Regions from separate parts of the Homo sapiens genome. Here regions 2, 3, 4 and 5 are each linked to region 1. Evidence: fine-mapped expression QTL. A gene starts in region 1. Each other region holds a variant in brackets. All regions are shown on one strand. Distances are between the middles of the regions.

The links. PIP is the estimated chance that this variant, and not a neighbour inherited with it, causes the effect. A credible set is the group of variants that fine-mapping cannot tell apart.
Region 2: its variant is the best candidate, but not a certain one, in a credible set for the expression of TSPAN18 in lung (TOPMed, PIP 0.83).
Region 3: its variant is the best candidate, but not a certain one, in a credible set for the expression of TSPAN18 in whole blood (TOPMed, PIP 0.87).
Region 4: its variant is the best candidate, but not a certain one, in a credible set for the expression of TSPAN18 in whole blood (INTERVAL, PIP 0.64).
Region 5: its variant is the best candidate, but not a certain one, in a credible set for the expression of TSPAN18 in aorta (GTEx, PIP 0.55).

The regions. Positions count from the first base shown.
Region 1 is chr11:44,724,102-44,729,203 of GRCh38, reverse strand. TSPAN18 (tetraspanin 18) reads right to left here and starts at 2,242. Exons shown (of 10, transcript NM_130783.5): 1 at 1,917-2,242. The region is part of intron 2 of TSPAN18-AS1 (TSPAN18 antisense RNA 1); the gene reads left to right. RefSeq lists enhancers at 1-237, 238-740, 2,456-2,625, 1,992-2,853, 2,854-3,714 and silencers at 1,110-1,279, 2,116-2,265.
Region 2 is chr11:44,695,094-44,700,195 of GRCh38, reverse strand. LINC02704 (long intergenic non-protein coding RNA 2704) reads left to right here. Exons shown (of 3, transcript XR_931234.3): 2 at 3,883-3,975. Among named protein-coding and RNA genes, the nearest start is that of LINC02704, 3.7 kb to the left of the region's middle. The variant T/C (reference allele first, on the strand shown) is at 2,410.
Region 3 is chr11:44,754,866-44,759,967 of GRCh38, reverse strand. All of the region lies in intron 1 of TSPAN18 (tetraspanin 18), which reads right to left. Among named protein-coding and RNA genes, the nearest start is that of TSPAN18-AS1, 21 kb to the right of the region's middle. The variant C/G (reference allele first, on the strand shown) is at 2,744.
Region 4 is chr11:44,672,082-44,677,183 of GRCh38, reverse strand. No RefSeq gene overlaps it. Among named protein-coding and RNA genes, the nearest start is that of LINC02704, 27 kb to the left of the region's middle. RefSeq lists enhancers at 4,111-4,889, 4,890-5,102. The variant A/C (reference allele first, on the strand shown) is at 2,824.
Region 5 is chr11:44,860,468-44,865,569 of GRCh38, reverse strand. It overlaps TSPAN18 (tetraspanin 18), which reads right to left. Exons shown (of 10, transcript NM_130783.5): 3 at 5,101-5,102. Among named protein-coding and RNA genes, the nearest start is that of TP53I11, 88 kb to the left of the region's middle. RefSeq lists enhancers at 2,667-2,716, 2,817-3,444, 3,445-4,072. The variant T/C (reference allele first, on the strand shown) is at 2,780.

The sequences.
Region 1 (5,102 bases):
TCTCCACCCTTTCCTTTCTCTCCTCTCTCCTCCTCCTCTTCTATTCAAAATAAAAATCATGCTGATCTGTCTTTATGGCAACTTTGTCCTGGAGCATTTCAGTAGCATCCAACAAAAACATGTGGCAGACTACATTGAACAGAGGAACCTCATCTCTTTCAGGGACCCCCATTTCCCCCACCTTTGTAAGGGACATTAAGGACATGGGAGCAGGAGGGGGGCTGCCCAAGGAGCACAGGTTACCAGCTAAGAGAAAGATGAAAACTTCTACCAACCACAATGAGGCCACGGCACAATCTATGATTTGCTCCTTTGCACTCACTTGGGGTGATGGGAGGAGGGAGGGAACTGGAGAGAAAGATGAGGCAATAGTCCCTCCAATGTCCCTTCAATGTTAGCCCCGCACATGACAAAGATGACAGTCCTCACAGATGCCAGCAGCCGTCGACTTCCCAAGGCACAGACACACAGACTCAACATACAGGGACCCTGAGGCCAGACAACTGGGACCCAGGGCAGATTTCCACCAATAATTGTGAAATGACCAGAAGAATGTGGCCTAGAGACCACAGACCCAGGGGATGAGGGTGGGGGCCAGGGCTCGTTGACTGCTGAGAAATTTAACACTTCTGCCTGGACTGCTGAAGTCTTTAAGGCCCCATCCCCCACCGCCCGCCCTGTGCCTCCCAGTTTACTTGTGCCCAGAGAGAGGATACCCCAAGACCCCCATCCTGCCTTCACCAGACAGGGATTCGACCAGATCCAGGAAACAAAGGTGCAACTTTTACAAAAAGGGTGCATGCATTTTGGGGTTTGGGTTTCTGCAACTCCAAAAACCGTCAAAAAGTTAATTCCCCAACCCACTCTCTCTGCACCAATTCGCAGTTGTAGTTTCTTACATCTTTTTCTGGGGGTAAATTTCTTACTCATCCATTTGCCCTGGCAGCCTTCCCGAGAAAAATCACATCCTGACTCCTAGCCTTTCCAGCCCACGGCGCAGTTATAACTGTGAACCTTTCGCCTCACTCTTGGTCCCGCTCCCCCGTCTGGCTAGTGTAGGGCGGGCTCCTCGGGGCGGGACCCCGCGTAAGTTGGGTGTCTGTGGTCCCTGCGTCCTGGATGTCGGCGCGGTTGCCTCGCAGGAGCCAGAACGCGCTTCCTGCTGGCGAGGGCCGGGGCAGTGCGCCCCCTGGCGGGAGCCCAGTCACCTCACTCCAGCAGGACCCGGAGCCGGCGCGATCCCACCCGAGCCGAGCACCGTCCCAACTGGCTCCCACTGCCCCCTAAATCTGGACGTGCCCGAGCCTCCCACCCACCCAGCACTCCATGGAGTCTCCACTTCCCCAAACCGCACACACCTAAGGAATAAGGGGGGTCCTGGAGGAACGAGTGGCGCCTCCGCCCCGCCCCGCCCCGCTGCCAGGGACCCCAAAGGCAGCCCGCCCTCCATGCAGCTGCCGGGCCCCACAGCCCTCCCGGCCCCGATCGCCGCTCCCAGTCCCTGGTCCCTCACTGTCTTACCGGGTGGCGTGGCGAGCAGCCCCTTTCCGGGCGCAGCCCTGGCCGAAACCCCGAACCTTGTAACCACACCTGCCACCCCGCGCCGTTCTCCAGAAGCCCCCACTCCTCCACCCGGAGCACTGGGAGCCCACCGGCTCTGCACCTGTCCTGGGCGCAGCCCCCGGCCCTCAGCGGACTCCGGGCAGGCACGGGGTGGAGACCGTCCCCGGCCCCCCAGCCCCCGCGTGCTAGTTTGAGTGGAACTTGGTTGCCGGGCTTCCGTCCTGGGATCCCTACTCCACCCCAATTCCCCGCCGCGTCCAGCAGCACCCCCGGGGCGGCGCGCGGGGGGGTCCCCAGGTCCCCGGGGGCGCGGCGGCGGCGTGCGGAGGGCACGGAGGTGCGGAGCCCCATACCTTCCAGCGGCGGCTGCCGGACCCCGCGCCAAATCCCGCCGGCGGCCGGGGGGAAACTTTCCTGGTCGGAGGGGCGCGCTCGCAACTTGCCCGGCGCCGGCTGCCTTCCCGGCGGTGGCGGCGCGTCCGGGGACCCGCAGCGCGAGGCGGCGGCGCTCGCTCGGGGCTCGGGGCCGGGACCGGGGCCGGGGCCGGGGCCGGGGCCGGGGCCGGGGCTGGGGCCGGGGCCGGGGCTGGGGCTCGGGCGGCCTCGCGCGGCTCCGCGGTGGATCGCTCGGCGCTACGTCCGCCCCGCAGCCTGGAGCCCCGCGACGCCGGCGGCAGCTGCACGCCCGCCAGCCCGCCGGCCCCACCTCCGCCGCCGTCCGTCCCTCCCCTCCCCCGCCCTCCCTCCCCCTCCCCAAACCTCCGCCCCTCCCGGCTCCAGACGCCGTTGCTGCCGAGAAGCGCGTCTCCTCTGCGGGCTGCCCCTCGCCTCCCGCCAGCCTCCGCCTCCTCCTCCAACCCCGCGTCCAGGCCTTGTCTGGGGGTCCCTGGGCCCACCCTCTGCCCATCTCCCCTTCCTCCGCCTCCGACCACCTCCCGCTCTGCTCGCGGGCCCTCTCTGCGTCTGAATTCGGAAGATCGTTGCGGGAGTGGGGAGAGGGGCATGCTGGACCCGAAGTGTTTATTCCAGGGGAACTTTCAGCTGACCCCGGGGCCCAAACGCAGGGGTTGGGGTGAGATCCTCGGTCCTGATCGGGCTCCTGGGCTTCCCGCTGCCGGGGGAAGTACCTGTTGAAAGCCTGGGGAACTCACCCTCCTCTGACTTGCAGATAAGAAAGGGGACTTCCTGCATGGAGGGGCCTGACCCCAGGTCAGATGCAAATGACTTGATTGCAAGGGGCCAGATCTGTGTCTCCGGCCTCAGGGCTGAGGTTCTTGCGGGGCTGGGGAGCTTATCTTTTCTTCTCTGTACTGCTGCCACAGCAGCACTGGCTCCCAACCCCTGACATGACTTGCCTGAGACTTTTAACCTCTGAGCCTCCTCTAAACAACTACCCGACCCTGCCCCAGACAAAACGGACAAGCAAGCAGATCAAAACTGACAGCCCAAGTGAAAGTACTGATGACAGGGGCTCGGGTCGCCCACTCCTCTTCCCTTGGCAACTCTGTTTTGAGTCCCAGCTTGAAGCTTCCACACCCCATCCCCGTGGGCCCTAGGCATTCAAGCACACATCAGCTCTGCAGGAGGCCCCTTGGCCAGCTGATTCTCACTAAGGGGTGACTGATAGGAAGGAGTTGACCCTACTCCTGTCTTGTATATGGATGTTGGTAGTCAGGCCACTGGGCAGAGTTTGGGGGGAGGGGGATCTTCTTGTTTTGTTTTTGTTTTGTTTTTGAGACAAGGTCTCGCTCTGCTGACCAGGCTGGACAAGCCTGGTCAACAAGCACAGCTCACTGTAGCCCGACCTCCTGCACGGCTTACTGTAGGCTCGACCTCCTGGGCTCAAGCAATCCAATCCTTCCAACTCAGCCCCCTCGAGTAGCTGGGACCAGAGGCATGTGCCATCATGCCTGGCTAATGTTTTCTGTTGTTTTTGGTGTGTGTGTGTGTGTGTGTGTGTGTGTGTGTGTGTGTGTGCGTGTGTGTTTTGTAGAGCTGGACTCTTACCATGTTGCCCAGGCTGGTCTCCAATTCCTGGCCTCAAGTGATCCTCCCACCTCAGTCTCCCAAAGTGCTGAGATGACAGACGTAGCCACTGCACCCAGCCACCAGCCAGAGTTTTGAGAGGCAGGAAGTGGCTGCCTTTCCTTGCCCACATTCCAGGAAATGGATTCGTCCCTGTAAGGGGATGTCCCTGTAAGGACTTCAGGGATGTCTGGTCCTTTAAAGAACTTCACCGCGTCACCGGGACTCTTAGAGTAGGCACGTGGCTGGAAGAAAAATCCCTGGATCCGCGGTTTCAAAGGGACCCAGAGTGAGCAAAGCTTCACCCAAGGGGAGGAAGTCCCTAATGGTGGAATTTCTATAAGAGGAGGACAAGGAGAAGGGCTCCACATTCACCCTTCAGCTGCCAAAACAGAATGGAGGGTGGAGGCTGAACACCCCACAGGCCCTGCACTTGTGGAATGCTGCTGGGAGAGGCCCCGTGTGAGCCTCCTTGGACACCAGGCGCCACATACATTTAAAGAGGAAAAACGGGAAGCCCACAGCAAGGGTGCTGGAGCTGGGGAAGTGGAGACCAGAGACAGGCAGAGAGAGGGATAGAGTCTCTAAGGGTCTGGGGCTTGGCAGAACGGGGCAGGCGCAGGGGAAGAGAGTGCAGACCCGCTGCACAACTTAGACAACCAGCTCGGTCCCTGACTCCAGTTCCAAGTCAGTTTCCTGGACCTCAGCCTCTCTCCAGCCTCCATGGAGGACCTGGCCCTATCTGTGCATTAGCTAAGGACATCTGCTGAATAGGCTTCTCTAAATCAACTCTTATTTTTTCATTCTTTTTTAATTTACTTAAGTGAGCTTGTTTTTAAAAAGATATGTTAAATTATTACCATAAATGGAAAGCCAGCATCACATTACTATAAATAGAAGGTAACCATCAAAATAAATACAATGAAAATAAGTGTTATTAAATTCTAACAATGTATCTTTAACCACAATAATAATAATACAGTCTAACAAGATACTGCTGCCTGAGGAGGTGTTGAAGCTGAGGTCCCACTTTCTCTTTGAAAGGAAGGTTACCAAAGGCTAGAAAGGTGTTAAAGACACATTAGCAACAAACTCTTCATCAAGAGCATTGATGAAAAGAGAATTGGGAAGGGACCCCCTCCACTCCCACTCCTCACCAGGTCAATTAGGGTATTGGAGGCCCTTGGATTACCTCCAATGACCTTAATTTCCTTGAACATCTCGAATGTCCTCTCAATTGGGAAACATAATTCTATGTATTGGTGCAAAAGTAATTGTGGGCTGGGTGCAGTGGCTCACACCTGTAATCCCAACACTTTGGGAGGCCTAGGTGGGTGGATCACGAGGTCAGGAGATTGAAACCCTCCTGGCCAACATGGTGAAACCCCGTCTCTACTAAAAATACAAAAATTAGCTGGGCATGGCAGCACGTGCCTGTAATCCTAGCTATTCGGGAGGCTGAGGCAGGAGAATTGCTTGAACCCGAGAGGCAGAGGTTGCAGTGAGCCGACATT
Region 2 (5,102 bases), 29 kb after region 1:
AGACAGGGAGGTCAGGCAGGCTCTCTCAAGAGGGGACATTTAGCAGGAGCCCCAGCCATACTTAAAGCCGAGGGTGACTGTTCCGGGCAGACGAAGTAGCAGTGGAGATGCAGTGTTGGGGAAAGAGTTCAGATTCAAAATGTCTTCACCCAGATCCCAGGTCTGCTTGAATTTGTTTCTCCTCCAGCCGTTACCTGTTTTCCAAGGTCATTCGAGGCTCCTCCTCACCCTGGACCCACAGCCTGTTTGTTGTGAGGCTGCTAATTCTGCCTCTGAAAGGGCTCTGCTGTCTTGCTCCCACCCACATCCCTGGCCTGGATTGTGGAGACGCACGCTCACTGGAGGCACACCCTTGCCTCACCCTCCCAGTTCACTCTCCTCCCTGCTCCCAGGGATTGTTCTAAAACCAACACCTTCATGGAGCTACTCCGCTCAAAAACCTCCCATGGCTCCCCATTGCCTACCCAGCCCAACCACACTGCTTGACCGTGCCTCTCTGGTTTCACAATCACAGCACAGCCTGCTTGTCCAGACCTATGTCCCCACCACCACCCCCTGCCTCTCACAGACCCTGAACCTTTCATGCTGCCTTGTCCTCCATGCCTTTGCTCATGCAGTTCCCCCGCCTGGAATGCCATTCCCTCGCTCCTCCACCATCTCTACCCCAGGCTTAGCTGTGGTGCTCTTGCTCTCTGCTCACTCCTCTGCTGCATATCCCAGCATGCCATATGTTCCTCTGTCTGAATCTGCGCCATGCTGTATAGACAGGGGGGTCTATGCATTGGCAACCCCCAGCTGGGATGCCTTTCTCATATTTGGGTCCCCAGTGCCACTGCAGGCCCAATGGACACGCGGGAAGGAAGTATAGCAGACTGCGTGGACTTAAGACAACTTCCGGTGAGGGTCCTGGCTCAGCCATTTCACCTCATCTGTAAAAAGGGGATAATGTTAGTACCTCTTATATCAGATTGTTGAGATGATTAAACGACACATTCAGTTGAGTGGCACTGCCCCCAGGGATGATTTGGAAATGAATGGGGGGCATTTTCGATTGTCACAAAGATAAGGTCAGGTGGGGAGTACCACTAAACTGAGCAGGTGGTGGGTCTGGGAAGGCAGGTGATTAGTTAAGAGGGAGATGGTCTTTGGGAGGCCGAGGTGGGTGGATCACCTGAGGTCAGGAGTTTGAGACCAGCCTGGCCAACATGGTGAAACCCCCGTCTCTACGAAAAACACAAAAATTAGCCTGGCATGTTGGCACGCACCTGTAGTCCCAGCTACTCAGGAGGCAGAGAATCGCTTGAACCCAGGAGGCAGATCATCGCTTGAACCCAGGAGGCGGAGGTTGCAGTGAGCTGAGATCGCACCACTGCACTCCAGTCTGGGTGAGTGAGACTGTCTCAAAAAAAAAAAAAAAAGTGGGATCATGCAGCCCAGTGAGGAACTGTCCCCACAAGCCACGTGACTTTCACACGCCCTGCTGGACATTCATGTAGGGAAGAAAATATGTTTATCATTATGTGAGTCTAGACTTTAGCTCTGCTTTACATGTAAATATAAAGCATTTTTCCACACTTTGAATATATACTGAATTTTCAAGGATGCAACTAAAGACAAAAACAAGAGAAGAGAACTCTATATTTAGTTTTATTCAGAACATGCCAAGAACTGCTCACAATTTTGGAAACGTGCATCTGACAGTGACATGATTAGAACGTTGGCTTCTCGGCTCAGTGCCCCACGTTCCTGTACATCTGTAGCTGTCCCCTTGATGGTGGTCCTGCGCAGGCTGCAAGCCCCTGACTGCTTCCTATGTCTTCCAGAGCAGCTGGGCCTGAGTGCTTACTTGTTCAAGTACAGTTTTTATTTTACGGGACATTCTTTATATTTCCTATTTATGTTACAGATAGGACATTGTATATGGTTATTTTTAAAAATCGTGCCTGTAGGTAGGTTACAACATCCATGGGGTTTATTTCAGAATATTAATGGGAATGTTATGCACCATCCACATAGAAAGAAGGTGTCAGGCATGTGAGGATCTGGAAGCAGGGTTGCAGAGTATTTATGAAGTGGTGAGAATTTAGACACTATTGCTAGGGACTTAACACACATTTGATGGGTGAGTGAATGAATGGATACAGGTTGGTGAAAGAAGCTCTCTAATGCCCCTTTTATTACCACTCACAGGTGAGCTAATGCTTGGGACTGCCTGGAACTATCTGCTCCCGGTTCTAGGACCTTCTATGAAGCGAGCTAAGCACAAGCCTTTCTTGGCTCCAGCAGCCAGTTGGCTTCTTGCTGGGTTGGGAAGCTGCTCAGGGCAACTTCATCCCTGCTTTGGAGGCCCACCTGGATATGAAGGCCCAGCCAGGATTAGATCCAGGCGGCTCTGGGATTTTTGCAACA[T/C]TCGATAATAGGAGTGGAATTCCCGCCCAGGCCTGGTCAGGAGTGAGAGGAAGGGACAGTGTGATTCTAGGTGTCATATTCCTGCCTGCTGGGAATCAAAATCATCACATTTGCTTCAAGTTTATTTCATTTACATATTTTCTCGTTATAAGTAATACATGCTTGCTGCCCAAAGAACTCTAATTGGAGTAGGCGTGTGGACTTCTCTGTTCCATCTCCTGTTTCTTACTAACATAGAGAGCAAGTGCTTTCTTTGAACTGTTACTGATTTATAAATGACTTACCGTCATTTATTTGTTTTCAATTTGTTAAAAACTTTTCTCATGGAACGAACCTATGCATATGGTTAAAAAATAATAAAAAGTAAGTTTCTCTGTTCTCCTAAACACTCCAAGTTTGTTTTTCATTGTTATTTATTTAAAAAAAATTTTTAAGTGACAGGGTCTTGCCATGTTGTCCAGGCTGGACTTGAATTCCTGGGCTCAAGCAGTCCTCCTCCCACCTCAGCCTCCCAGGTAGCTGGGACCTCAGGCACGCATCACTGTGCCCAGCTTGTGTGTTTTTTTTTTTTTTTTTCACACTAAATCATAGAAAATACATTTCTGGCTGAGCTTGGTGGCTCACGCCTGTAGTCCCAGCATTTTGGGAGGCCGAGGCAGGAGGATTGCCTGAGCCCAGGAGTTTGAAACCTGCCTGGGCAACATCAAAAGACCTTGTCTCTAAAAAAAAAAAATACAAAAATTAGCCAGGCATGGTAGCACTCGCCTGTAGTCCCAGCTACTCGAGAGGCTGAGATGAGAGTATTGCTTGAGCCCAGGAGGTTGAGGCTGCAGTGAGCTATGATCATGCTACTACACTCCAACCTGGGTGACAGAGAGGGACCTTGTCTCAAAATCAATCAATCAATTAATTTAAAAAATACATTTCTGTTTCTTCATTTATCCACTCTAGGCACTGTCTACTAGTGACTCTCCATAAAAGGTGAGGAAATTAACAATCAGTCCCGAATGTTTGTTGACTATGTGATTTTATTTCATATTGGGAAGATTAACAACATTTACATTCTATTTTATTTCTATAACTATGATTGGTTGTCCAAAGTGACAGCTAATAACCAGCATTTTTGGTAACAGTGAATACTTACAAAGTCCTTAGCCATATCCTGGTGTTGTTCAGAGCACTTCACTCAGAGGCTAACTTGTTTAATCTTCACAACAACTCCAGGAGACAGCAACTGTTATTAACCCCATTATGTAGATGAGGAAACTGAGACATGGAAAAGTTAAGGAATTTGCTCAAGAAAGCTCAGCTTATACATGGCAGAGTGGGGACTGGAACCTCGGCCGGTCCCAGGGTCTGCGTTCTTAATCACCACATTGTACTACCTCTCTGGGACTATTTCAATATTACATTTTTCTGAAGCATGGCCGCACCCCTTAGATGACTTGAGCCTCTCTTCTTCCCGTGTTGCAGGTGGAGAAACATGGGGCTAAATGATGATCTTGAAAAGGGCCCTCACTCGTGAGCCTTCGCCATGTGCCAGTCACTATGCTGAGCACCTTGCAGGTGAGAACGTGATTAACCTCACGGTAAGCTCCCACGTGGGGCCCATTGCCATCCTCTTTTGCGGACGAGGTCACCGAGGGACACAGACTTTAAGTAATCAGAAGGGGAGAAGCCGGGTCTCACACCTGGGTTCATCTGGCTTCATGGAGCAGGCCCTGAATTAGGAGTCAGGCTATGAGCCATCACTCACTGTAGGCCCTGGGACAGGGAATCTAACCTGTCTGGGCTCTGGGTTCCCCAACGTAAGGGTTAAGCCAGTCCCACAGGGCCACCTGGCTCTAGGACTCTACGGCTCTGCTTGACCCCGCTTTGCTGGGTAAACACATGCCAGTCTCTCACTAGCCAGCCTTGGAAGCTTCAGCTCTGAGAGGGGGATAATAATGACCCTCCACATAAAACCATGGGAAGACTAAATGAGATGACCTGGGTCATGCCCTGAGGACATGATAATAATGAGGAGGAGGAGCAGGAGGAGTCAAACAGCAGGACCCTGTCCACCCCAGCCTGCTGCCCTGCCCTCTACGAGTCCCCCAGAGACAGCCTCCTTTCCCCACTCCTTCAGCTGAGGTGGGGCTGGAGATTCCAGCCTGTGGCTCCAGACCGTGGGAGGAAGTGAGAATGTCCTTTCTCATCAACTCTTGTTCTTCCAGGAGCTTCAGGTCCAGGCCTTGGGGGTCAGCAGGGCAAGCCTGAGCCCTGTGGTGCTGTGGGAAGACTTGGTTCAAGTGACACTGAGCCTGGGACAAAGTGCGGTTGATGGCTCTTGTTTTCCCTGGCCCTTCAGATTGCCTTTGGGAAACCACCCAACCCTCACTCCCCTCCACCCACGTGCATTGCATGGGGCTAATTCTACCCCAGGCCCTGACTCCAAGTATGATCACCTGATCCAGACCTGGCCAATCAGCCTGTTCTGTCCCCCAGGCCACAGTGATTTGTTTAGGGATGATCATGTGACCTACAGAAAGCTTCAGGATAGTGGCTTCCTTGGGTAGGGGAGGCTGATGGTCAGACAGGGAAGAAGCCCACAGACAGATGCAAGTGCTGGTTAATGTTCTGATTCTTGTGTTGGATGACCAGGTCTTGGGTGTTTATTTATATAAATAAACAGAGGAGAACCGTTTATGAAC
Region 3 (5,102 bases), 31 kb before region 1:
AACTCCTAATCATCCTTCAAAACCTTCTTTCAGTTAACTCCTTTGTGAAACCTTCCCACTCTCTCAACAGGCATAAGTCATTGTTCTCCGGGCTCACATCACAAATTGTGTGTATAGGTAATAGTATATTTTTTGCTCATGTGATTTTTCCCACCTACCAGACTATGAGTTCCTCAAAGATATGGGTGGTATCTTACTCCCTCTGAGTCTCAGTTCCTGACTCTGCAAATAATAGCTGGATGGATAGACAGTTGCTAGGAGAAATGGATGGATGGGTAGTGAATGGATTTATAAAAGAACTTGAATGGTAGAAAGAAGGAACTAGGCTATAATTGGTTGAGGGATGGGAAAATGACTGGGTGGATGGAGAGATGGATGAACACAGGGATGAATAGAAGGACAGAGGGAAGACAAGTGGATCTATAAAACAATGAGTTAAATGAATGTGGGAAGGCAGAACTAGGTTAATGGTGAGAAAGAGAGAGAGAATGAATGACCCTCAACTACTTGTATAATTTTCTCTAGACCCTGAGAAACTGAGACTCTTAGGACTCTGAAGAGCCTAGCTTTAGTCTTCCAGAGTCAGTAGGTCTGAGGAGAGACCACGTCGTCAAACACCATCACCCCCTAGCTCACCCCACTGTACCACTTGTTGTATCCATAGATCTACAGGTAAGGCCTTCGGGAAGGAATGGTCAGAGCTGCCTCTTGTCTTGGCCTTTGCTGACCCAGGTGCTGAAGAATTAAACAGTGCCACAAGGAGACCAAAGCTTTCCTGTGTCTAAGCCAAGCTCCAGTATGCAGGGCAGTTGCTTTGCCAACTGTGTTCAATAAGCCAGCTTGTGAACAGGCATGGGATAGGCAAACTGCCTGATTTACAGCAGAAGGACAGCTGCTGATGGAAGCCCTGCAAAGATGCCATTTTGGGGGAACTATAAAATCGGTAAAGGGTCAGGATAACTGAACAGCATAGCACTGTTTGGATGGTTCCTGTGAATGGGCTTTGCACAGGGACTAATTCCCCAGTATAGCCTGCTGCCTATCTTCAACAGGGGTAGGAAACACGGTAGGAGATGAGGAGCCCCCAGCATGAAATCAATGTAAAGCACTGTGGTTAAGAAGCCAGGCTTTTGTGCCCCCGCAAACCTGAGTTTAAATCTCAGTTCTGCCTCTTGCTACCAATGTGACATCAGGAAAATTCTCTATCCCAGCAAACCTCAGGATATCCACCTGCAAAGTGTGGACAACCATAGTCCCACCTCACAGGCTTGAACTAGGGATTGGATGAGCTAATAGACTGCAAATGATTCCCACAGTACCCAGCCTATCATAAACACTCGATACACAGAAGCAGCAGGAATTTTGTAAAATATAATCTGCCGCTACTTTCTGTAAAAAGGGCACTGAGCTAAGCATTACTCTTATACCAAAACCAGACAAAGACACTTACAAGAAAAGAAAACTACAGACCAATATCCCTTATGAGCACTAATGCAAAAATCCCCAACAAAATATTAGCAACCCGAATTTGGCAGCATATTAAAAGGATTATACACCATGACCAAGTGGGACTTATTTCTGGAATGCAAGGATGGTTAAGCATACAAAAATCAAGGTAATACTCCACATCAACAGAATGAAGAGGAAAATACCCCCACACAATTATATCAAATGGTGCATAAAGCATTTGACAAATTCAACACCCTTTTATAATGAAAACATTCAACTAAAAATATAAGAAAACTATCTCAAAACAGTAAAAGTCATATATGAAAAACCCATAGCAAACAGCAGACATCATATTCAATGGTGAAAGACTGAAAGCTTTTCTTCTAAGATCAAGAACAAGACAAGGATGCCCATATTTGCCACTTCTATTCAACACAGTATTAGAAGTTCTAGCCAGAGCAATTTGACATTGGATTTTGTAATGATTTCTTGGATATGACACTAAAAGCCCAGACAACAAAAGGAAAAATAGACAAACCAGACTTCATGAAAAAAATTTAAATTTGTGCATCAAAAGACAATACAAACAGAGCAAAAATGCAACCCATGGAATGGGAGAACATATTTGCAAATCATATATCTCACAAAGAATTAATATCCAGAAAATATAGAAAACTCAAACTCAGCAACAACAAAAAAACCCAATTAAAAAATGGGCAGAAAAGATTAAAAGACATTTCTCCAAAGATGATATACAAATGGTCAATAAATATATGAAAATATGCTCAACATCACTAAACATTAGGAAATGCAAATCAAAACCTGCAATGAGGCCAGGCACAGTGGCTCACACTGCCTGTAATCCTAGCACTTTGGGAGGAAGAGATGGGCAGATCTCTTGAGCCCAAGAGTCCAAGACCCACCTGGGCAACATAGCAAAACTCTGTCTCTACAAAAAATACAAAAAGTCAGCTGGGCATGGTGGCACATGCCTGTAGTCTCAGTTCCTTGGGTGGCTGAGGCAAGATGATCACTTAAGTATGAGAGAAAGAGGCTGCAGTGAGCCAAGATCACACCACTGCACTCCAACCTGGGCAACAGAATGAGACCCTGTCTCAAATAAATAAATAAATAAATAAATAATCATTTCTCAGCTTTCTGGCTAAGATCAAGTGTAAACAAATAAATAAAACTGCAGTGAGATACAACTTCACACCCACTGGCATGGCTACTATAAAAAAAAATAAAAAATAAAAAATAACAAGTGTTGGCTAGGATGTGAAGGAACTTGAAC[C/G]CTGTTCCCACTGTTGGTGGGAATGTAAAATGGTACAACCACTGTAGAAAACGGTATGACAGTTCCTCAAAAAATTAAAAATAGAATTACCATGTGATCCAGCAATTCCACTTCTAGGTATATACCCAAAAGAAAAAGCATTTGACAAATTCAACATCCTTTTATAATAAAAACATTCAACTAAAAATACAAGAAAATTATCTCAAAACTGTAAAAGTCATATATGAAAAACCCACAGCAAACAGCAAACATCGTAGTCAATGGTGAAAGACCAAAAGCTTTTCTTCTAAGATCAGGAACAAGACAGTAGGAAAAGAAAGTAGGGTCTCAAAGAGATATTTGTACACTCATATTCAGAGTAGGATTATTCACAACAGCTAAAACATGCAAATAACTCAAGTGTCCATCAACAGATGAATGGATAAGCAAAATGTGGTCTATCTACACAATGGAGTATTAGTGAACCTTAAAAAAGAAGGAAATTCTGACACGCTGCAACATAGATGAACCTTGAAAATGCTATGCTAAATTTTAGAAAGCCAGTCACAAAAGACAAATACTGCATGATTCCACTTACATGAAACATGTAGAATAGTTAAAATCACAGAGACCAGAAATAGAATGGAGGTTACCAGGGGCTGGGAGGAGAGGAAAATGGGAAGAATTATTGCTTAATGGATATAGATTTTCCATTTTACAAAATAAAAAGAGTTATGGAGATGGATGGCATGGACGGTTGCACAACATTATGAATGTATTTAAAATAACTGAACTGTGTACTTAAAAATGGCCGAGATGGTAAATTTTATGTTGTATTTTATGACAACTAAAAAAAAATGGGGAAAAAAAGGGAGTAGCTATGATTCATGATTCCAAGTTATTCTCCTGGGAACCCTTCCCTCCCTCCCTCCCTCCCTCCTTTTTGTTCTCACAAAGAACAGATGGGGGCTACACCCCTCCACACACACACAACACACTTAATTCACAACAATTGGACTTCACAATAATTTATATATTAACTTTCCAGATAACATTGAAGACCACTGGTTTAGAGTCTCCTGTTGTCCTAGAATCCCAAGTCAGTCGGATTTCAGAGGAGGAAGAGAGCCAGGAAGACTTCCTGGAAGAGGCAGCAAGGAACAAAGGAAGAGAGAGAGTTGACCAACCCAGTGATAAGCCTTTCCCTGGTTAGCTTCTGTTGGCAAACTCTCTCTCCATCTCCCTCTTCCCTCCTCCATCTCTCTCTCCATCTCTCTTTCCCTCTCTCTCCATTTCTCTCTCTGTCTCCCCTTCTCCCCACCCTGGCTCTGTACTCCCAACCCTAGTCACCCTACATCTCTTCCTGGCTCCTAGGAGAAATAGCCACCCTTCTGAGTCCCGAGGCCATAAGAATTTGGCCTTATGCCCCAAGAAGGAGCAGCGTCCTCAGGGAGACCCTGGATGCCAGCTCAGCCTCAGACCTCGTCTCCCAAGCCGATGCCAGGCCACAGGATCCAGGCTGGGCCACTGCCAGCCTGATGCATTGCTTGTTGACAGATAAAAGCTCTGCAATTTATGGCTCCAAAGCAAAGCCAGGGCTTTGTTTTGCTTTGTTTTAAATTAGCTACATAGGGGGTTGGTGTGGGGGCAGGGGAGAGGGAGGAGAGCCAAGGCATGCTCAGGATGTCTTGGGGCTGCGTCCCCAGCTCAGCAAACCCCAGGGCAGCCCTTAATGAAGCCACCTGAGCGCTGAGAACCTTGCAGTGTCTGCCGGGCTCTCCACCTGCACTTGTCTGGCTGGGGGAGGGAAGCGCTTCCCACCTGCTCGTCCTGTCACTGGGCCCAGCACCCTTTGTTCCCAGAATGAGTCCCAATCAGCCTGGTTAATTGTGCCTCAGGGTCTCAGTGGGGCTGAAGTGAAACCATGACATCCTCAGAAAGATGGGGATCTATTCCTGCTCAGAAAGAGGAGGCTGTTCCTTACTGTACTTGACACAGTGCAGCAGGCTCTGGGCACTGCCAGCAAGGGGCCCCAAGGGTCTACCCAGAAGCATGGGCCTTCCGATCTGAGCCCATTAGCTCTTGGTGGGATGAGGAGGGTGGAAGGGCCAGGGAGGGAGGGAATGTCCCAATCCCCATAAATGATTGCCTGAGACTGTTTATTCTCAATGCAACTGCTGTTAAGAATCATTTCCCCTCACGCCTCCCATCTGGTCTGGGGCTTTTCTGCAGACAGCACATGCCAGCCAGGGTCTCTGTGTGCCCTCCTGTGTAGGACCTGCCATAGACAGACACAGCCGCACTGGTCAACTGAGTAGGAAAGAGCATGTGTAGCCTGTGGCAGCCCAAAACCTCTTGCCATCGGTGGGCATTGTCCCAC
Region 4 (5,102 bases), 52 kb after region 1:
GTCCAGGTAAAAAATCTCAAGTCACGTGAGTGGGGGAAATCAGGCTGGCTGCAGGCTTCTCTCTAGGAACATGCCAGAGTCTGTGGGGCAGAGTCTACAAGCTCCCAGAGGATAGAAAGTATGACCCGAGAAATTTATACCCAGACAATTTCCTTCAAATTGAAAGGCCATAGACAGACATTCTCAAGAGTTCTAGAATTTAGGGAATGAGTGCCTCTTAGTCCTTCTTGAAACAAAAAATTAGGCAATGAAATGTAGCCAACAAAGGGATTTATTAAAATAAATAGCTCAGAATGGAGAAGCCAGGGTAAACATATTGGTGACAAGCTCTGAATCAATTTAAATATAGAAATAAAAATCTTTGTGAATTTGGAGTATAGTACACAGTGCAAAGGTTATATAAACATCAACAATAAAACTAATATCATTAAGTGACTAACAATAATTGGGAGATCTAGGAGAGAAGCAGAGAGAAACTGTGAATCTGCTAATTTCCTCATTTTTCACAGCAAGAGTCAACCAGTAAGGGATAAAGTTGGAAAAATGCCATTTAAAAAAATAACATAATTGGCTGGGCATGGTGGCTCATGCCTGTAATCCCAGCACTTTGGGAGGCCAAGGTGGGCGGATCATCTGAGGTCAGGAGTTCGAGGCCAGACTGGCAACATGGTGAAACCCTGTCTCTACTAAAAACACAAAATAATTAGCCAGGTGTGGTGGCAAGCACCTGTAGTCCCAGCTACTCGGAAGGCTGAGGCAGGAGAATCTGTTGGACCTGGGAGGTGGAGGTTGCAGAGCCAAGATCTGCCACTGCACTCCAGCCTGGGCAACAGAGCAAGACTAGACTCTGTCTCAAAAAATAAAATAAAATAAAATAAAATAAAATAAAATAAAATAAAATAAAAATAAATAAATAACATAATATAATCTCATAATTAATATTTTACAGAATTATGTTTCTTAACTTTAAAAAGCCTTGTAAAAACTCATATCACTTGAGGTAAAAAAGTATTTATCTAAAATTAAGCAGTTCTTTGATTTTAATTTACTAATTTATTTTTTAAGCCTTTTATTTTAAAATTTTATTTTATTTTTAATTTTTATTTAATTTAATTAATTAATTTATTTATTTATTTTTGAGACTGGGTCTTGCTCTGTCACTTGAGTACCTTCCGGGCTCAAGTCATACTCCCATCTCAGCATCCCAAGTAGCTGGGACTACAGGCATGCACCTACCATGACTGGCTAATTTGCTAATTTGTTCATTGTTTTGTACACATAGGGGTCTTATTATGTTGCCCAGGCTGATCTCGAACTCCTGGCCTCAAGCAGTCCTCCCCGCTCAGTTTCCCAAAGTGCTAGGATTGAGCCATCGTGCCTGGCCCTATTTTTAAATTTTTTTTGAGGCAAGGTCTCACTCTGTCATCCAGGCTGGAGAGGTTCAATCACAGTTCACTGCAGCCTCAACCTCCCAGGCTCAAGCCATCCTCCCATCTCAGCCACCCAAGTAGCTGGGACTACAGGCATGCATCACCAGGCCAGGCTAATTTTCATATTTCTTGTAGAGATGGGGTTTTGCCATGTTGCCCAGGCTGGTCTTGAACTCCTGGCCTTAAGCAATCTACCTGCCTCACCCTCCCAAATTCCTGGAATTATAGGCATGAGGCACTGCACCCAGCTGAAATAATTTTAAATATACAGAAAATTTGCAAAATGCTCCCCATATGCCCTTCACTCAGCTTCCCTAATGCTAACATCTTACCTGTTTGTCCAAATTAAGATATTAACATTGGTATAAGGCTATTAACTAAATTATAGACTTTATTTCGCCAGTTTTTCCACTCATCTCCTATTTCTACCCAAGGATTTCATCCTTTAGTAATCAGCGTCTCCTTGGTCTCCAATCTCTGACAGTTTTTCTGTCTTTCCTTGTCTTTCATGACCTCGACACTTCTGAAGAGTCCTGGCCAGATGTTTTGTAGAAGATCTCTCGATTTGCATTTGCATGATGTTTTCTCATGATTACATTGAGACAGATTTGGGGGAAGAGCACCACGAAGGTAAAAATGCCTATCACGTGGTATATAGTATGGACATGACTTATTACAGGTGATGTTAACCGCGATCACTTAGTTAAGGTGGCATCTACCAGGTTTGTCTGCTGTGAAGTCACTGCTTTTCTCCTTTCATACTCTAATTCTTAGAAATGCATGACTAATCCAGCCCTTACTCAAGAGGAGGGGAATTCATCTCCTCCTCCTTGAGGGAGGAGTATCAAATAATTTGTGGACATAGATTAAAATCACCACAGTAATTAGTAAGTATTTTAGAGAGGAACTTTGGGGACTTCATCAGTGGATCTTGCCTGCAGTCATTAGCACTTGTCTCCTAATGGTGATGCTCTATTGCCCCCATCCTTCTTATTTGGAATATTATTCACATGATTACATCCCACATTTATTATCTGGAATTCTCTATAAAGATTAGTCTCCCGTCTCCCCCATTTATTTATTTAGTCAATCATTTGTCTGTACCAGTATGACCTTGTGTATCTTTATTTTATTCTTTGCATTATAATCCAACAGTATCACGATCTATTTTGTTGTTCAAATTATTCTAGCCCTGGCCACTGGGAGCTTTTTTCAGGTTGGTTCCTCTGTCCTTTTTCCTTTCTATTACCTAATGGACTTGATATTTTAGAGCAGTTTTGGGTTTATAGAAAAATTGAGCAGCAAGTGCAGAGCGTTCCCATATATTCCCTCACACCCCCACTCACACACACACGCCTTCTCCTGTTATTAGTATCTTGCCTTACTGTGGTAC[A/C]TATGTGACAACTGATGAGCCAATATTGATATATTATTTTTCACTAAAGTCCATAGTTTACACGAGTAGTCACTCTTTGAATTGTGCATTCTGTGGGTTTTGACACATAGGTACTGACATGGGTCCACCATCATAGTATCATACACAATAGTTTCATTGCCCTAAAAATCCTGTGCTCCACCTAGACATCTTCCCTCTTTCTCCCTGAACCCCTGGCTACCACTGATCCTTTTACTGTGTTCATATGTATTAGTCCGTTCTCACATTGCTATAAAAAACTTCCTGAAACTGGGTAATTTGTAAAGGAAAGAGGTTCAATTGACTCACAGTTCAGCATGGCTGGGGAGGCCTCAGGAAACTTACAATAATGGAAGAAGGTGAAGGGGAAGCAAGGAACCTTCCTCACAAGGTGGCAGGAAGGAGAGTGAATGCAGGAGGAACTACCAAACACTTATAAAACCAACAGATTTCCTGAGAGCTCACTCACTATCACGAGAACGGCATGGGGAAACCGCCCCCATGATTCAATTATCTCCATCTGGTCTCTCCCTTGACACGTGGGGATAATGAGGATTAAAATTCAAGATGAGATTTTGGGTGGGGTCACAGGAAAACCGTGTCACCATTGTTCCAGAATGTCATATAGTTGGGATCATACAGAAGCCTTTTCATATTGGCTTTTCGGAGAGAGAGAGTCTCTCTCTCTGTCACCTAGGCTGCAGTGCAGTGGTGTGATCCTAGCTCACTGAAGCCTTGAACTCCTGGGCTCAAGCAATCCTCCCACCTCTGCCTCCCAGGTAGCTGGGACTACAAGCACATGCCACCATGCCTGGATAGTTTTTTTATTTGTGTAGAGATGGGGTCTCATTATGTTTCCCAGCCTGGTATGGAACTCCTGGCCTGAAGCAATGCCCCTGCTGGCCTTGGCCTCCCAAAGTGCTTGGATTACAGGTGTGAGCCACTGTGCCCACCCAAGAGATTTGCTTTATTTTGTTTAGAAAGGGGGGGGTCTCACCAGATTGGCTTCTTTCAGTTTACAATATGCATTTGAGGTTCCTCCATGTCTTTTTGCAGCTTTATAGCTCATTTCTTGTTATCTCTGAATAATATTCCATTGTTTAGATGTATCACAGTTTATCTGTTCACCTATTGAAGAACATCTTGGTTGCTTCCAAGTTTTGGCTATTATGAAAAAGCTGTGTAAATATACATGTGTGGGTTTTTGTGTGGCTCTAAGTTTTCAACTCATTTGAGTGAATACCAAAGAATACAATTTCCAGACTGTATAGTAAGAGTGTGTTTAGTTTTGTAAGAAACTTCCAAATTGCCTTCCAAAGTGGCTATGTCATTTTGCATTTCCACCAGGAATGAATGAGAGTTCCTGTTGCCACACATCCTCACAGCACTTGGCACTGTCGGTGTTTTAGATTTTTAGCTATTCTAATAGGTGTGTAGTGGTATCTTGTTGTATTTTGCAATTCCCTACTGATTTATGATGTTGAGCATATTGTGTCCTTTTGACATGCCTCCATCCTCTTTGTTTCTGTAAGCACTTTCTTTCTGGCATTACAAGATGCTCCAGGTTCATCTTACCTTTTCTATGTATATTAATTCATTATTGAATTGCTATAAAGAAATACCTGAGACTAGGTTAATTTACAAAGAAAATAGGTTTAATTGGCTCATGGTTCTGTAGGCTATACAGGAAGCATGGTGCTGGCATCTGCTCAGCTTCTGGGGAGGCCTCAGGGAGCTTTTACTCATGGTGGAACGCACAGGGAGAGCAGGCGTCTCACTTGGTTGAGTGAGGGCAAGGGAGAGTGGGGCAGGGGAGGTGACACACTTTACAACAATCAGATCCCACAGAACTAACTCACCATCACAAGGATAGCACCAAGCAAAGTGGCATCTGCCCCCATGATCCACACAGCTTCCACCAGGCTCCACCCCCAACATTGGGGATTAGAATTCAACATGAGATTTGGTAGGGATATATATTGAGACCATATTATTCCACCCCTGACACCTCAAAGCCCATGTCCTTCTCATATTGCAAAATACAATCATGGCTTCCCAACAGTCCCTCAAAGTTTTAACTCATTTCAGCATCAACTCAATCAGAAGTCCCAAGTCCAAAGTCCAAAGTTGTATCTGGAAATGAGTTCCTTTCACCTATGAGCCTATAAAATCAAAACAAGTTATTTACTTCAAAGATACAATGAGGGTACCAGCATTCGGTAAACATTCCTGTTCCAAAAGTTAGAAATTAGCCAAAAGAA
Region 5 (5,102 bases), 140 kb before region 1:
TCCTTCCAGATCATTTGAATTTTTAAGAAGCCTATATTGCTTGTGTAATAATAACTTTTCAAAGTAACTTTTTTGTCTTACAAATGCAAAGTAGTCTGGAAAAACCCGTGTGGGAGCAAGAAGATGCAACAAATAGCTTAAGGGTGTTCATTAAATACACCATCATCATCCTTTCTTGAGCATTTACCACGTGCCCAGAGCTCTGCAACTGTTTTAACACTCATTATTTAATTTAAAGCTCATCGCAGCCCTATGATGCCATTAGTGCTACCATTTTCTAGATGAGAGTTGAGAATTTGAGAGAGACTCAATAACACGCCCAAGGTCACCCAGCCTCAGAGCTGGCGTTTGCAAGCTCTGTCCTTAAATCAGGGTACACACCAGGCTGCCTCCCTGAAATCAAACTGAGAAACTTAATCAGCTCAAAAGCCATTTGTTTTGAGTCCATTCCACTACTTGAAAATTCCTTATATTCCACGGGAGCCAAAATCAAATTGTCACAGAAAAACAAGCCAAGAGATTGGTATGTCCAACCACCCCGGCTGAGGCTGGGACAACACCGATTCCAGTAAATCCACTGTGATCCTTCCACCCATCCATCCATTCACCAACCTCTGGCTGATGCCCCACATGGCAGGCTCTGCTGGCTGCCAGAGACCAGAGAGGGTGAGATACCCACAAGGAGACCGCCAGGCAAACACAGGGGCAGACTGGACCCCCAGCACCTTCCATGTACAGGCTTGGCGTCCTCCAGAAATAATCAAAACCCTTTGCAGTTCAGGATCCAAAGAAGCATCAAAGGGGGGTGAAAAATGAAACAGGACCTTGCCATTGGCACCCAGGGCAAGCCCATCTTCCCCGTGAAACACTTAGTTTTCCTGATGCTGAACTGGGACTTGGCAATCCACCCCATAAGGTCCATGTGCAACACTGGACCAGTCCATTTTAGTGGATGCTCTGGCATTTCACCCAGGCCTTAGGCCCAAGATGGCAAGGGAGGGTTGAACAAAGCTTCGGGTGCCATGGGAAGCTGGGGTGGGATTTTCCCCAAGGCCTCAGCCTGAAGACCTGAGCTGCCGAGAGCAGGGACCCTGAGCATCCTATCCAATAGGACCCCACGTGCCTCTCAGAGGCCCAGGCACACAGTAAGTGCTCAATGAAGTGTTGGTGAATGAATGAATAAATGTGATTCTGGGTAAGGCAGCCCCAACCCCAACACTTTTCGGAGATGGGAGGGGTGTGACACCCCACCCCATCACCAAGTTTTTTTTTTTTTTTTTTTTGAGACGGAGTCTCACTCAGTCACCCAGGCTGGAGTGCAGTGGTGCGGTCTTGGCTCACTGCAACCTCTGCCTTCCAGGTTCAAGCAATTCTCCCACCTCAGCCTCCCAAGTAGCTGGGACTACAGGCGAATGCCACCACACCCGGCTAATTTTTGTATTTTTAGTAGAGACGGGGTTTCACTATGTTGGCCAGGCTGCTCTCGAACTCCTGACCTTGAGATCCGCCCGCCTCAGCCTCCCAAAATGCTGGGATTATAGGCATGAACCACCGTGCCCGGTCCCCATCACCAAGTTTTTTGGGACATGGACCAACAGGCACCTATACACTGAAGACTCCCACAGAGTTATATTAATATGATTGAAATATAAATAATAACAACACCAAATAGCATCAGTACTACACTGAATGCTGATCCCTGGCAGGTGCTCTGTTAAGCACTTTCTGTCATTCAAGTATTTCCTTCCATCTTCACACAGTCTTACGAGAAGTGACTATTACTATCTCTAACTTACTTATAAGAATACTGAGGCTGTACTGCTAGCAGAGCTCAGATCCGAACCCAGGTCTGACATGGAATACAATGTTTCAAGCGGAAGGAGCTTGACAAACTATAGGCCAGGAGGCTAAGGACATCAGTAGTGCAGCAGGGACCCAAGTCTCCCAACTTCCAGCCCAGGGTATGCCACTAGGGCAGCTGCTTGCAATGCTCTAAGTGAAAATGAGCCCTAAGCTCTGTAAAGTATCTCAGGAATGAGAGGATTAAGAACTCTTGGTCTTTGTGCAGCACCATCTCTTTGAAAGGGCCCTCCAAAACTCCCCTTCCCAGGGAAGAAGAGGACAAAAGGAAAAGGGAGGCGCTACTAAACTCCGTACCCAAGCTGTAGTTGAAAGCAGCCTTGAAGACAAGATGGCCCCAGGCCCAGCACGGCCAAGCCTGGAGGCCTGCGGGAAAGAAGGCTAACCGAGTTCATCTGGCTTCCTGCCTGGCACAGTCTTTCAAGCCTCAGGGTCCCACTGCCAGGCCTTTGCTCTCACTGTGTCTTCCTCCCGAATGTCCTTTCTAACGTCCGAAACTGGCCTATATCTAGGCACAGCTCACAGGCCTTGCATCCCCTGATTTTACACCACCACTGTGCAGCAGTAACATCTCCTTCTGGCCTCTGAACCCCCAAGCCTTCCTTTATATTTCAGCTCTGGACCCTCCCATTCTTTACCTTGGATGTCTTGACTTTGATCGTCTCCCTTAAAAATCTGGCCTCTGAGGTGCCTGTTGAGTGCATCTGAATGAATGACGAATGCCTGGGAAGTGGAGCTTGTATGATTCGTTTTATTAACAGGTGCACACTCCAGGAGCAGGTCTGCATACAGATCTCTCTAACAGCTGCCCTTCCTCCTCCCCAGGGCCATGACAAGTGGCACCTTACACCCTAAGTCCTAAAGGCTGAGAACCAAGTCATTCTGCTATTTCTGCTGCATCAGGCACAGGTGGGGGCTT[T/C]ACAAAATGCTGTGGAAAGTAACTGACCGACATATCTACCAAGCCAGCCCAGTTATGGTTTAGCACTGTCTGAGACATCAGGCGAGGGGTTGGGGGCAAGACACCCAGAGGAGGGTCCTGCCCTCAGGAGATCTCCCAGAGGAGAGGTCAGGGAACCCTGAGGACAGGGACCTTTGGGCTTTGCTCACCCTCAATCCCCAGCATTTAAACAGCTCCTGGCACATGATAGGCACTCAACAGCCATTGGCTGAATAAATGAATTAACACTCATTGACCCAGAGGTGCTGAGCTCACCATATAAGGCAGGGTGGTGCTGAGCGCTGAGCTGGCTGCATGGTGAGTCAGAGCTTTGGAGCCCACAGGCGAGACACAGAGCGAGAGAGACTGGGGGAGGGCCAGGAGGTTTGTGGTTGACCAAAACCAAGCAAGGGGCAGCTGCCTGGGAGGCAGCATCACAAGCTGTGGTTTTCGGTATTTTTTCTGCAGAGGAATATTTGCTCAAATGAAATCACACATCGCACCCTAAATGTAGGACAGAGCTGCCGCGGCGGAGGGCAGCAGGGCTGCCAGGCTGGCCTGGCCACGTGTACCCTCGTGCCCCCAGAGACGGAGCTTCCACTCAACCAGTGCCCGTCCCCCTCTGCTCCCCTGTCCCTCTAAGGGGCTTCAGATAAGCAAGGCTGCGGTTGGTCTTCTGGGAAGGGGCCCATTTAGCGCAAAAAACCCTAAAGAGGCTCAAGAAACTCCCCTCAGCCATGAAGGAGTGGAGGTGGGGGGAAAAAGGAACAGGCCTTCCCGGCGAGTGGAGGTCTACTCAAGGCAGCCAGGCGCTGGGGTGGCTGAAATAGTGGGGCGGCCATCAGAGAGTGCAGGGACTCTTTATGAGAAAGACCTTCTGGAACAATCTTTTTGGAACGTGAAGTACCACTCTCAGATCCATCAGAGGCATGGGGGCTGTGTGTGTGTGTGTGTGTGTGTGTGTGTGTGTGTGTGTGTGAAATTTGGGCTTTCAGATACTAGATTCACTAAAAATGAGGCACTTAGAGAGAGGCCAACCCTGGTACCATAAATCACAGGAAGAATCCCAACTGGGACACATGCGACCACCTGGGTGCTTCATCGCCCCCGACTCCCAACATGACACCAGTAGGGAGAATCTGCTGCTTTGTCTGCCCAGCATTCCTTTCTCCTTTTTCTAAAAATAATGCTTGGATTTTCCCTTGCAAGTCCATCCCCTCTCATGCATTCAGGCTGACTTCCCCAACCCACGACACCTACCGACCTCACCACACCACCCCCAACCACCGACCCCCCGCCCAGCACCGACCGCCCCCACCCCAGCACCGACCAGTCCCCACAGCCCCGACCACCTCCCTCAGCACCACCCGCACCCCACCAACCCCCGCACCGACTGCCCCCCGACCAACTGACCCAGTCTGGCCAATCAGCATATCTTATCCTCCAGGTTTCAGTGATTGGGCAGAGGTGTCATGTGACCCAAGACCATCCAATAAGCCTTGACTTTGGGATTTTTGTTGGACCGCCTGGGAAAAAGAAGCTCTCCTTCCATTGGATTTGAAATGAGCAAGGCGTCAGTCTGGATCTGCAGGTGCCTGCCCTGCGGCCACATGGAGAGTGGCTACCGAGGACTGAAGCTCACAAGGAGGGAGGCAGAGGACACGGATGTGGTGAGATACGGTCCTAACAGCATCATTTGAGCCCTGGATTCAGCCCTGCCTGCCTTGAAACCAATAAATAGGCCCCAAATATATTATTTGGAATATATATATTTGGAATATATATTATTAGAAACCAATATATTAGAAACCAATTTTAAAAAGCTAATAAATGGCCTGTCTTGCTTAATCCAGTTTGAGTGTTGGCTCCCAAATGATGCAGCATCTGACCTCAGTTCAGCCTTTGCCCTCTCACCACCCACTGCAGCCAACCTTTACTTCTGACCCACCACTGGTTCTTGCTTACCTGGGCAACAGTTCCACCCTTCCCCAGTTGAGCTTGAGGGGCATGGGCCAGCAACCTGGTGGGCTAGCCTGCACCTCAGCCTTCTCAGCTGTCTGGCCCCTCCGAGGGTTATCTTCTTGGCTAATCTAGTGAGACCCCAGCAACCTTGGCTCAGATCCACTCACACTATCTGCACCCCTTACTATCCTGCCCACGGACCTTTGGTGTGATGGGAGAGACAGACACTGATGCATGAAAGAGAATGACAGGTGCCCTGCTGATGGTTACCCTTAGCAACAACAACAGCAACAACAAAAGTAGCAGAAATCCCCTTGCTGAATGAGCCTAACCTCTGTTACCT